Linked DNA regions of Homo sapiens: region 1 is linked to region 2. Evidence: fine-mapped QTL for protein levels in blood plasma. Region 2 holds a variant in brackets. A gene starts in the other region. All regions are shown on their reverse strands.

Region 1 (3,968 bases), not on the chromosome of region 2:
TGCGTCTGCCCCAGTTACGGTGAAAACTCTTCATCTCCACTTCTAAGAACCTCGACGTCTGGTCCCCAGAACCCTCCCCAGGTTAGGGACCCGGGAACCCAGCCCCCCACCCTCTGCTCCCCCTGCCCCAGGAGTGGGGACCCTGGCTCCGCCCCTTGGGGACCTAGAGTCCAAGTCTCCTCACGCACCAGGCTTGCCCCAGTTGGGTGTGGAAGGGGCCAAGCCGGGTGACAGCCAGAGACCGAAAGTGAAAGGAAATTTTTGGGGGGAGACAGTCAAGGGGTGGAATCTGGGCCCAGGCGGAGCGCGCCCCCTGGTGGTGAGAGGCGGCCGCTCACGCCGCAGATGGCGCGTTCTCCGGACGCCCCGCAGCGGGGGCTGCAGTGGGGCTGACTCCCTGGGTGGCACGCCCAGTGCATGGTGAGCTGGGGCTGGAACCCGGATCTGTCTCTGGGAACTCGCAGTTGCTGTGTCTTACCGTCCTCCGGGCCCCAACTTTGCCCCGCCAAGGCTTGGCACACAGGACTCAGGATGCATCTTGTCACATTGGGCCTGGCAGGTGTCGCCCTAGCACTAGCTTTATCACTGTGGGAGCTTGGCCAGCCCCTTGACCTCTCTAAGCCTCGGCTTCTCCAACTCCAAACTGAGGGGTGAGGTGGTACATGAGACAAAATAGAAGCTCTCTTCCACATCTGTGGATCTCTGAATCTCTGAAGCATTTTTTTTTTTTAGATGGGGTCTCACTCTGTTGCCCAGGCTGGAGTGCAGTGGCACAGTCTCGGCTCACGGCAACCTCCGCCTCCTGGGCTTAAGCAATTCTTGTGCCTCAGGCTCCCAAGTAGCTGGAATTGCAGGTGCGTGCCACCATGCCCGGCTAATTTTTGTATTTTTAGTAGAGACGAGGTTTCACTATGTTGGCCAGGCTGATCTCGAACTCCTGACCTCAGGTGATCAGCCTGCCTCGGCCTCCCAAAATGCTGGGATTACAGGTGTGACCCATCACGCCCATCCTGAATCTCTTGCTCACCCATCTGATCCGTGGCAGACTGTCCTGAAACATCTGCTGCCCCCACCCCCCCAGCAGGAGGATTCGAGGTCCCATCCTGGGGAACTCGGACATGGCCACACTCACTTTGGCCAGTCACATGAGGGTGGAGGTGACAGGTGTCACTTCTGAATGGAAGTCTAAGGGACCGGGGAGTGGATGGTGGAGGATGCATGGAGAGAGCGCCTCTATCAGCCAAGTTTCCTGTGCCACTCGGAGGAGCACAGGGATCCTGCCAGCCCCGGATGAGCACAGGGAGTGTAAGCAACAAACTAATGTTGTGGTTGTGGCCCACGCAGATTCGGGGGTTATGTGTTACTGCAGCAAAGCCTCGCCCGTCCTGGCCTTCATCATCCATTTCCCTTCCCTGATCCCTCTGCCTGCCTCACTTCCTGTTCAGCCTGGGTTAGCTGCCTTGTCGCACCCAATGGTCAGACCTTCCATCTGGCTAGAAAGATTTAAATGAAGCAGAGAGGCAGAGATACAAGCCCCAATAGCTCATGTGGCCCATGGACAAAGGACCTGCTCTAGCTCCTTCCTGACCAAGTCCTGGGGCCCCTCAATGTGTGTCCTGCCCTATCGCCCTATTGCCTCTAGGGAATCTCTGTAGCCTTCCAGAAGACTCCTCTCTCTCTCTCTTTTTTTTTTGAGACCGAGTCTCGCTGTGTTGCCCAGGCTGGAGTGCAGTGGCACGATCTTGGCTCACTGCAAGCTCCCCCTCTGCCTCCCAGGTTCAAGCAATTCTCCTGCCTCCCAGATAGCTGGGATTTCAGGTGCCGCCACCACGCCTGGCTAATTTTTATAATTTTAGTAGAGACGGGATTTCACCATGGTGCCCAGGCTGGTCTCAAACTTCTGACAAGTGATCCACCCACCTCGGCCTCCCAAAGTGCTGGGATTACAGGTGTGAACTGCCACACCTAGTCCGGAAAACTCTCATTTTTTTTTTCTTTGAGATGGAGCCTTGCTCTGTTGCCCAGACTAGAGTGAAGTGTGTGCTCTCAGCTCACTGCAACCTCTGCCTCCTGGGTTCGAGTGATTCTTCTGCCTCAGCCTCCTGAGTAATTGGGATTACAGGTGCCCGCCACCACACCCAGCTAATTTTTGTATTTTTAGTACAGACAGGGTTTCACTGTGTTGGCCAGGCTGCTCTCAAACTCCTGACCTCAGGTGATCCGCCTACTTCGGCCTCCCAAAGTGTTGGGATTACAGGCCTGAGTCACCGAGCCTGGCCTCTGAAAACTCCCTTTTATCCTAAACTAGTAAGAGTGGGTTTCTTACATCAAAAAGAATTCTACTTCAGGTGTGGTGGCTGATGCCTGCAGTCCCACACTTTGAAAGGCTGAGGCGAGAGGATCGCTTGAGGCCAGGAGTTCAAGACCAGCCTGAGCAACGTAGGTAGACTCTGCCTATTAAAAAAAAAAAAATTAGCCAGGCATGGTGGTGCGTGCCTGTGGTCCCAGCTGCTCAGGAGGCTGAGGTGGGAGGATTTTTTTTTTTTTTTTTTGAGACGGAGTCTCACTCTTTCGCCCAGGCTGGAGTGCAGTGGCTCGATCTCGGCTCACTGCAAGCTCCACCTCCCGGGTTCACGCCATTCTTCTGCCTCAGCCTCCCAAGTAGCTGGGACTACAGGCGCCCGCCACCATGCCCAGCTAATTTTTTTGTATTTTTAGTAGAGACGGGGTTTCACCGTGTTAGCCAGGATGGTCTTGATCTCCTGACCTCATGATCCACCTGCCTCGGCCTCCCAAAGTGCTGGGATTATAGGCGTGAGCCACCACGCCCGGCCGAGGTGGGAGGATTGAGCCCAGGTCGAGGGTGGGTTCAGTAAGCTGTGACTGCGCCACTGTATTACAGCCTAAAAAACAGAGCAAGATCCTTTATTTAAAAATCAACAGTCGTGCGCAGTGGCTTAAGTCTGTAATCTTAGCACTTTGGGGAGACCAAGACAGGCGGACCGCTTGAGGTCAGGAGTTTGAAACCAGCCAGGCCAAGATGGTGAAACCCCGTCTGTACTAAAAATACAAAAAATTATCTGGGTGTGGTGGCGCGAGCCTGTAATTCTAGCTACTCTGGAGGCCGAGGCAGGAGAATCGCTCGAACCTGGGAGGCGGAGGTTGCAGTGAGCCGAGATCACCCCGCTGCACTCCAGCCTGGCCGACAGAGAGACTCTGTCTCGAAAAAACAAAAAACAAACCAAAAAAACCCACCCACAACCAGAATCCTAAGGCAGTGGTGTGCTGAAGCGGCTCGTATTGGCTCATGGGAGCTGACCTGTTAACAATTCAGGATCTCGCAGGCAGTTGTTTAATCACCTGTACCTTGAAATCCGGCACGGTGGGAGCATTTACATCATGGAAATTGACAAAAGTCATATAGGAGGACTTTAATTTTATTCCAGAGAGTTCCTTTACTGCATATGGATTCTGGGGCCATGAAAAGGTAGAGAAAACCAGAGAGCAAGAGCCACCAGATGGAGAAGACAAGAAGATATGAGAGTCCTAAGGCCCTGTCTGGGGTCCTCGGGGGTCCCCTTTCTCTGTTTCACAAACACAGCACCGTGCTGGAGCCGGCTCCTGAGCTGCTCAACCTCAGAACTAAAATGGCCTCGAGCCAGGTGTGGTGGTGCATGTCTGTGGCCCCAGCTACATATGAGGCTGAGGCATGAGGATCCCTTGAGCCCCAGAGGTCGAGGCTGCAGTGGGCCGAGATTGTGCCACTGCGCTCCAGCCTGGGTGACAGAGCCAGACGTTGTCTCAAAAAAAAAAAAAAAAAAGAAAAAAGCCTCATATCTGCCAGAAGTTGCTACACCCTTTCTTCTCGCAGAAGCACAGCTAGGGTTGGTCAGAGAGTTTATTGGGAGACACAGGAACCAGAAGGGGAAAGTCCCAGGTGTCTGTGGGGTGCATCTCCCCTTGGTGTG
Region 2 (8,438 bases):
GGGCGGGAAGAGAGGGTGCAGATATAAAGGAAAAGCTTTGTCCTGGTTGTGGTGGGTGCACAATGGTTAACTCTATGCTATCCTTGCTCACAAGGAACTTTCTGTCTAGGTGAGTGGCTTATACTTTAGAGGGGAAGAAGGAGCATTAATGATTGGTCCCATCTGGGATTCTTCTCTTAGAAATTGACCCGTGTTCCTCTGTGGCAGTCTTACTATAAATTATGAGTTCTTACAGTGTTTTCTTCTAAAGATGGAGTCTTAGTCTATTAGAGCTGCTGTAACAAAAATGTCATAAATTGTATAGATTATAAATAACAGAATCTTATTTCTCATGTCCTGGAGGCTGGGAAGGGCAAGATCAAAGTATTGGTAGATTGGTGTCTGGTGAGTGCCAATTTCCACGTTCATAGAAGGCACCGTCTCACTGTATCCTCCCATGGTGGAAAAGGAGCTAGCTAGCTTTCCGAGGTCCCATCAATAAAGGCATTCATCCCATTCATGAGGACTTTGCCCCCATGACCTAATTACCTCCCAAAGGCCCCACCTCCTAATGCCCCCATGACCTAATTACCTCCCAAAGGCCCCACCTCCTAATGTCATCACCTTGGGGATTAGGATTTTGCCATACAAATTTTGTGGGGAGACAAACATTCAGACCATATCAGAGCCCTCAAGCCTAGAACACACACACTGATGCAGTTCTTAGGGAGGTCAGTACTTCATATATCCCAGCATTTTCTGTGAAAATAATAAATCATGGTCTCTGGAGTAAATCCTTTCTAAAGTGTTACAACTATGTAGGAGTCTCAGTGTTCACATTATTATTCAGCAGAAACACCAAACGAATGTATAATAAATGTAGCACTTATTCAGTTTACATATATGTATTAGAAATAAGCCTGTTTTAAAAAATTATAATCAAAATGTAGTTTGACCTTATTTAAATATTTTCTATCTTTTTACTTATATATTAACAGATATTTTCCATTTTAATTTCCAGTGCTCTGGGGTATATGATGAATGTCCAATATAGCACAAAGCAGTAAATTTCTCTTTATTGTTGTTATTTATTGTTGAGACATGCTTCATTAAACAGTCCCTGTCTTGTTACTGAAACAACTTAGTATGGTTTTGCACAACTAATGGTTTTCATCAGCATTCATCATTGAATTGTTTTCCACCGAAGAAATTGGGTTGGTGTTTTAAATGTTGTCTATGTTAGAATGGGCAATTATATTACCAAAAAGGTAGATGGGTAAGTTTTAGGAAGAAGCTAATTTAAATCAGTCAATAAAATGGTCTCTGTAGAGAGTTGCATGATACTTATAGAAATCTACTGCTTATGCTTTTATTTAGGAGGTTAAATACCTATTATTTTCTCTGCAACTTGTCAATCAGAAAGAAATACAACATTAGTTTTGGCTTGCAATGATTAGAATGGGCATTTTTTTCTTTTGTGAAGGAAAGTGTAATGAGCTAAGATCCAGGAGTATTATAGTCTAGCTGAGTTATCTATGACCCTCCACAGCCTCATCAATAAAATGACAGAAGGGCTGACATCTTTTCTCTAAATTTCCTTCAAATTCTGATGCTTTATAGTTATGAAACTATTTATTTTTACCACAAAATATCCCTTTCATATGTTAAAAAGGAATGAAGACACACAGAGAATTAGCTTACCAAAAAGCATTAGGAGGGAGTCTCCTATAATGGAAGGAGAACCCAGCTGGGAATGTGAAGACTAGAGTTCCAGTTTTAGCTCTGTCAATAGCTAGCTTTGTGACCTATTCAGTCTTCCATAAAGTTATTTTCAGTTCTAAGATTCTGTGGGCTCAACCATGAAGTAAAATTCAGCGTAAAGGCATATAACTCTACCTGATATTATTAGGAAATAAACTTTGGACGTAGGAAGATGTAGGGAACCTTGGGTGTGATGAATTTTGTTTTTTTCCTTAGCATCTACCTTGTTAGGTAGGTGTTAAAAACTACATACATAGCTTTCTAGATTACTTTTGACATGACTTTGTTGAGGTTTGAACAGGTGTAGGATCATTACCCTGACCCCGTAAATCCTCTCTGAGTTTGGAACTGGTTGAGAAATTGTCAAGAGTCAGATAGTTCAGGATTAAATGATCAGCTATTAACATTGGATTTGTGTGTGAGCTTAGATGCTTCCTAAGTAGTGGAAAATTGAATTGTTTCTGTTTTTCCTTAAGCTTATGCTTTGGGATAATCCATCAGAACAACGTAAAGAAGGCCAACTTAGATCGTTACTGCCTCATCTCTACTGAACCCTAGTAGAGGAGACAGGGGGATAAGGTGCTCCAAGAAGGAAGTTTGAGCCTTGACCCACGTATATTTACTACATTAAGTTTAGGATCTAGAAGAGAAGGCCAGCGGCAATGAGAGAAGAGGGGAATTCACTACAAACAATTGGGATTTGTGGTCTGGAAGAAGTGTGGATCTGAATACAGACCTCTGTAAAGATATTGTTAGTTCACCCTTTCTTGGAGGCCTCAAAATATTTGTCACCAGGGCCTGTTGCCCTCATAAAAGACCCCTATTCTCTACATATCTTAGTGACTATAAAGGGGCTGAGCCATACTTCCAGTGTCTTGTTTTAATCTCCCCAATTACCTGTGTCTCTCCTCCTCATTTAAAAAACACAGAAGATATGTGAGGACTCTAGAGGAAGTGTTATTCCAGAAGCCCCTTCTTGGAAACATGATACTAGGACATTGGCAGTTTTCCCTAACAGACTTTCTTATCTTTCTGCTTGTGGCAGCAAATATTTATTAGAAATACATTTTTTCCTATTAACATTAAAGCTGAATATACTCAAGGCAAGCTGATGTCCATAAACAATTATGCATCAGTTAGCCAGAAATTTTTTTTCTGACTCTTGGGTGTTAATCTGGGGAAAACATATTAATTCTTGTTTAAGGATTCTATAGAAGTGTTCTGGTCTTCTAAAAGGTCCTTGTAAGAATGAGTTAGTATAAGGTTTGCTCATGAAGCTCAAAGGGCTGTTTAGAAATCTTCAGATCATAGTGAGATTTGTTTCTCTGGGGGAACTAACCTAATACACTGCTAATCACTGTTGCCCTAGTTTCTCCTTTACAAAAGTTTTGGACTGTCATATTTGGTTTTATATTAGATCATGCTAGATTAGCTTTCTTGCATGTAGAAGAAATCCTGGGAGCTTTGATGATGATGGCAAAAATACAGATGCCTTGGTGTAGCAATTGTGTAAATATGGTGTAGCCTAGAGAAAAAGGACAGCTCTCATCCTCCCAAATGTCCCTTTACCTGTCTTTGTGAATATACTTTATAAATAATCTCCCTCATTCTCCTTCTATATACATCAGAAAAGATAGGATTAGAATTGTGTCAGAGCTGGGCAAGAATACTAAGGGATGTTGGTGACTAGAAGACCAGGAAGACAATGAAATAGAAAGGTATCTAGAAATCTAAAGGCTAGAAATAAGGTAAAATCTAAAATAAAACTAGGATTTGTGCTAGCAAAGCAGAGCTGACCACGAATTCAATTACCAAAATCTGTGGCTGTTACTTTTTGACGACACTGAAAATCTACACAAGTAGTCTTGCAGTGCATCAATTAAATGCAAAGAAAAACCGTAAAGCTAAGTGCTATTCCAGATGTGTGGAGGATGGAGAAGACAAAGCCCTGTTTTTATTACAATCTTGAGCTGGCTTGCCTGGGTTAGAATCTTGGCTTCTCATGTTATCTTGGATAAATTGTTTAAAGTATTATATCTGTGTTTTAGTTTCATCATCTCTAAAATGAGGTTAAAAATAGTACCTACTCTTCTAAGAATGTATATTTTGGCTGGGGTATGGTAAAGTTAGTGCAGCCGCAAGAGAAAACAAGAACAAAGCTTAGAAAGGAATTTATTCTACTCACAGGGCCCAATGAGGTAGTCACCACACACCATGCAGGACCACAGGGGGAAAGCACCAGTGTCAGTCAAGAGCCAGAAGACAGGAACAAGGGGCAAGTCTAGGCCAGAGCCTTTCTTGAGGTTTCTGTGCGAAAAGGAAGGCAGAGCAGAGTAAACAGTTTAGGATTGGCCAGTTTGAATGATTCCAGAGGACTTTGGGCTATAAGGGTGATCTCTAGTTGCCTGGTAACTGGGAAGATTTAGGGCAAGGGAAATATTGGTTTGTTGTGTGAG[AGT/T]TAGATAAGGAGTTTGGGGCTGTAGATTCAGGATTGGTTGGTTTGTACGTGAGAGCTGTGCTCTCAGCTAAGACCTTCGCCGACTCTCAGAATTAGCCAGCTCTAGGGAAGATAGTCTCTTTCTGGGTCTGTAAGGCCACCAGATTCTAGAGCATCAAGAACTATAGAAATTAAGAAAATGTAGTTTAATAAAGCTGGCCCTGTTTTGAATGGATGCCTCACAGACGAATACAGAATCCAAGAAATCACAGCATACCTACCTTATTGTGAGGTTTAATGATTTAACACATACATAGTTGAATGACCCAGACTGGTTGCATGTCCCCAGTCTAACTGCATGAGAGGTTGGGGCATAGAGAGGAGCACATAGAATACTTGAGGAACACGGCTATCTGTGCTGTGCAGATGGGGCTCAGAACAACTATGCTTTGTAGAGCATATAGGAGAGTTTGGAAGGCCATTGGGATACTTTAAACAATTGGCTGTGGTGAGTGCTATATTGCACAGAATAATTAAGTTGAAACAATATATATATCTACATGATTTTCAAGCAGCTAATTTTATAAAATGTGCTTGTAAGTATATAGAGCATCAAATGGACTAAAAGTTATATACAGAATTTTAAACATTTTTACTGGTTTGATTGGCCTTTTGTTGATATCCAGGATGAAAAACAGGGCACAAAAGAAAATGCACTAATAAGGGATGTTTTATTTTACATCACAATAGAGATCAGTAGTTACTTTGGTTGAGACATGTTGGAGACAGCCATGCTGTCTGTAGGAGGGTAATGTGAGCCTTTAGGAAGCCATGGATGTGACACTATGAAGGACAAATTTTGCCATCGCTGCCACCACGCCTGTGAAACTGGGTTAAATGGTGGTGGTGGGGAATGGATGGGTTTTGGCCTGGAATCTATAAGACCTGAGTATGGATCTGTCTTTGCCACTTCTTAACTATGTGACTTTGAGCCATTCCCTATGTAAGATGGAGACAACAATGATTTGCCAACCTGGTGGTAGGGTTTCAGGAGATGTTTATGAAAGTATTTCCAGAGAGAGCTCATTTCCACTCTCCTAGTTCTGTTTCTATCATAATGGCTGCCCCACAGGTATCCCAAATTTCATATAAACTTCACTAGGAAAGTAGATATTTCACTCTTGCAATTCTTATGTTGTTTCATTGTATATGTAAATGGATAAAAGTTTAGGCTTTGCATTGTCTGACTTTACTTCTCTAAGAGTTAGTTTACTCATCCTTAAAATGATGATGATAATAGCATCAACCTAATGGGTAGTTACGATAATTAAATGCAGTTACACAAGTAGGACACTCAGTTCCTGACACATAACAATCACTCAATAAATGGTTGCTGTTATTAGTTTCATTTCATTACACATGAAGGACTTTGATCTACACTTCTGAGATTTAGATGCAAAATAATCTATGACTCATTAGCAGAATCAGTGAGAAAATAAGCAGAATGAGTGACTAATGTTAAGCAGAAACTATTGGTCAAAGGAACTGCTATGAAAGGACAAATGAATCTTCTATATCTTCAGCAAGCCTCTACTATAGTTCAGGGTGTTTCATAGAGAAACTATACCACTAATAAAAAGCTATTGACGTTTTGTAATTCTAAAAAAAAAATGCCACCAAATTCCTTACATATCTTGATTCACAATGAACTTTTATTGTTACATTGGCAACTTAAAGTAAAAATAAAAGAGCTATTGTTTCACTTAGATGGAAATTATTTAAGAAAAAAATACTCTGATGACTGTTCAGTTATATAACTAACAAGCATCTATTCATTGGGCACTGAAGTAGGTATCTCAGGAGATAAAATGTCAATAATAACTAATATTTGCCATGAAAAAATGTATTCAAAGCAATGAGACCAGGCTGGTACTGAGAGCCCCAAAACGTTAATTCTTCCTTATTCCTCCTGAGGAAATTTTAAGTGATTTGGAGGGATAAGACATATGAAAAATAAGGCTTAATACAAGAAACAGTTAAAAGAAAACAAAAACAAACCCTATCACTTGAGTAGAGCCTGTAGGGAATGGCATAGGATTTCCACGGTTCATCCTCAAGAAAAGCTTCTAGGGGTGGTGGGATTTTAATGTTCCTGGGAGCAGTAGAAATTGTGAGATAATGCCTGGTAATTACCATAAACTTGAAGCCAAATAGCTGGGAAAACATGTTCCAGGACATTGCAGATCAAATCATATTTCTATAAAAAGAATCTGCTGGATGTTCAGCTGACAGAATATCAACCATAAAAGGATAGTTTAATGGATTTCAATCATTATCTAAACACAAAATCACAGAGCCAAGTTTATGTGCATTGTTAATCATATGCTGTGAATCCGGTAAAAGAAAATGTAATACAAGCATCAGATGAGATGTTTTTTCTTTTCTGATTTTTAAATGGTAACATTTTATTTTTGAGAACCATTAAAAAAGAGTGATTGCTTGGAGCAGCCATCTAAGGGAAGTCCATTCTCTTTGTAAGGAAACAAAATGGTGCTCCAGTGGAAGAGCTCTGGAAACAGTGAGTGGTTCATAGAGCTACTGAATTCCTTGCTTTTGCTAATACTCAAATTTTAAAAGAAAACATGTCCCAATCCAAGGATTCTTGTGATATATTTGTGTTGGTGTGTGTGTGTGTGTGTGTGTGTGTGTGTGTGTCTAAATTTTAAATTTATATTTTAAACCAGCAGTCACTTTTCCCATTTTAAATTATACAATCACTTAGTTGTTTCCTGAACTATTTTAAATCAACAAGTTTTCTTTGAAAATATTTTTTTAAAAAATAGATCTTGCAGACTTAAGAAAATAAGAGTATTCCTTAAGGTAGATGGTGTAAAATAAATAAAATCAGTAGATTTCTAACACGTTCTTGAATAGAAAACACAAACGGAAATTATCCCATTTACATTTATAACTAAGCAACATTTAATATCTAGAAATAGTCTTAAGAAATGTAAAATGAACAAGATATGTAAAATTATAACATTTTATATGATAATAAAAGATTTGAGAACATTACAAAACATTTGATTAAGTGGGGAGACACAATTTAGAAAAAGTAGGCTTTATTTTTTAAAAGAGGTCAATTCTGTTTGAATTTATTCTATTTGCATTGTAATATCAATCAAAATTCTCATTTGCTGTGGGAAGGTGGTGAGGAGCTTGATAAAATGATTTCAAATTTTACTTTGAAGAATAAACATGCAAGAACAGCTAGAAGAATTCTGAAAAACAAAAATATGAAGAATGAGCCTTGCCTTGTCAGGTGTTAAGATGTACCACAAAAACACTGAAGTTAAAACAATGTGGAACTGGCTAGGAAATAGATGGTTGAGAAACAAAACATCTAACCTCAGATCCAACTATGTATAGGGATATTTAGTATATAATAAAGTTAGCATTTTGAATCAGTAGGGAAAAATGCATTAATGAATAAATGCTTATCCAATATGTAATAATTTGGGGAAACACATCATTCCTACAGTGTTCTTTACATAATTTGTACTTGTTTTAAAAGCCTGTAAAACTAACAGCAGAAAATATAATTAGATTTTAAATGTAATATTAGGGTGGGAAGGCCTTTGTAAGCATAACACAAAAAAACTGAAACAATAAAAAACAAGATTGACAAACGTAAATATAAAAATTACATCTATTCACAAGGTCAGGGGCTCGAGACCATCCTGGCCAAAATGGTGAAGCCCTGTGTCTACTAAAATACATAAAATTAGCCGGGCGTGGTGGTGCATGCCTGTAGTCCCAGCTACTCTGGAGGCTGAGGCAGGGGAATTGCTTGAACCCGGGAGGCGGAGGTTGCAGTGAGCTGAGATGTGCAACTGCACTCCAGCCTGGTGACAGAGTAAGACTCCTGTCTCAAAAAATAAAATAAAATAAAATAAATAAAATAAAATAAAATAAAATAAAATGTACTTCTATATCAGATAAACAGTCCAAGTGAGGTTGAATGACAGATGACCAGTAGAAAAAAGCATTTTTCATGTATGTGATACAAAGAGGCCTATTATTCTTAATATACAAAAATCTCTTACAAATCAATAAGAGTTTACATCTCAATAAAAAATGTACAGCAAAAATACAGCATACACCAAAAGCGCTTTGTTCAAGATAATTAATGAGACACCAAGACCTGAAGAGGAGGAGAACTAATATTGCACTTAAGAGATAAAATATAAATCAGAATTGT

Which allele goes with the higher level. Alleles are on the strand shown, and positions count from the first base shown. The strength of an association depends on the size of the effect and on how common the allele is.
In carriers of allele AGT in region 2, the plasma level of the protein whose gene starts at base 255 in region 1 tends to be higher than with T alone (moderate association).

Evidence for each region. PIP is the chance, under the fine-mapping model, that this variant and not a neighbour inherited with it causes the effect. Protein levels are from antibody-based Olink assays in UK Biobank. Linkage for the fine-mapping came from a reference panel and not from the study's own genotypes, which makes the PIPs less certain.
Region 1: FLT3LG starts here. The variant in region 2 is fine-mapped to the plasma level of the FLT3LG protein (UK Biobank, PIP above 0.99).

Annotation. Positions count from the first base shown.
Region 1 is chr19:49,470,502-49,474,469 of GRCh38, reverse strand. It overlaps FLT3LG (fms related receptor tyrosine kinase 3 ligand), which reads right to left and starts at 255. Exons shown (of 9, transcript NM_001459.4): 1 at 189-255. ALDH16A1 (aldehyde dehydrogenase 16 family member A1) reads right to left here. Exons shown (of 17, transcript NM_153329.4): 17 at 3,420-3,968.
Region 2 is chr4:104,939,133-104,947,570 of GRCh38, reverse strand. No RefSeq gene overlaps it. Among named protein-coding and RNA genes, the nearest start is that of TET2, 200 kb to the left of the region's middle. RefSeq lists an enhancer at 4,105-4,184. The variant AGT/T (reference allele first, on the strand shown) is at 4,197.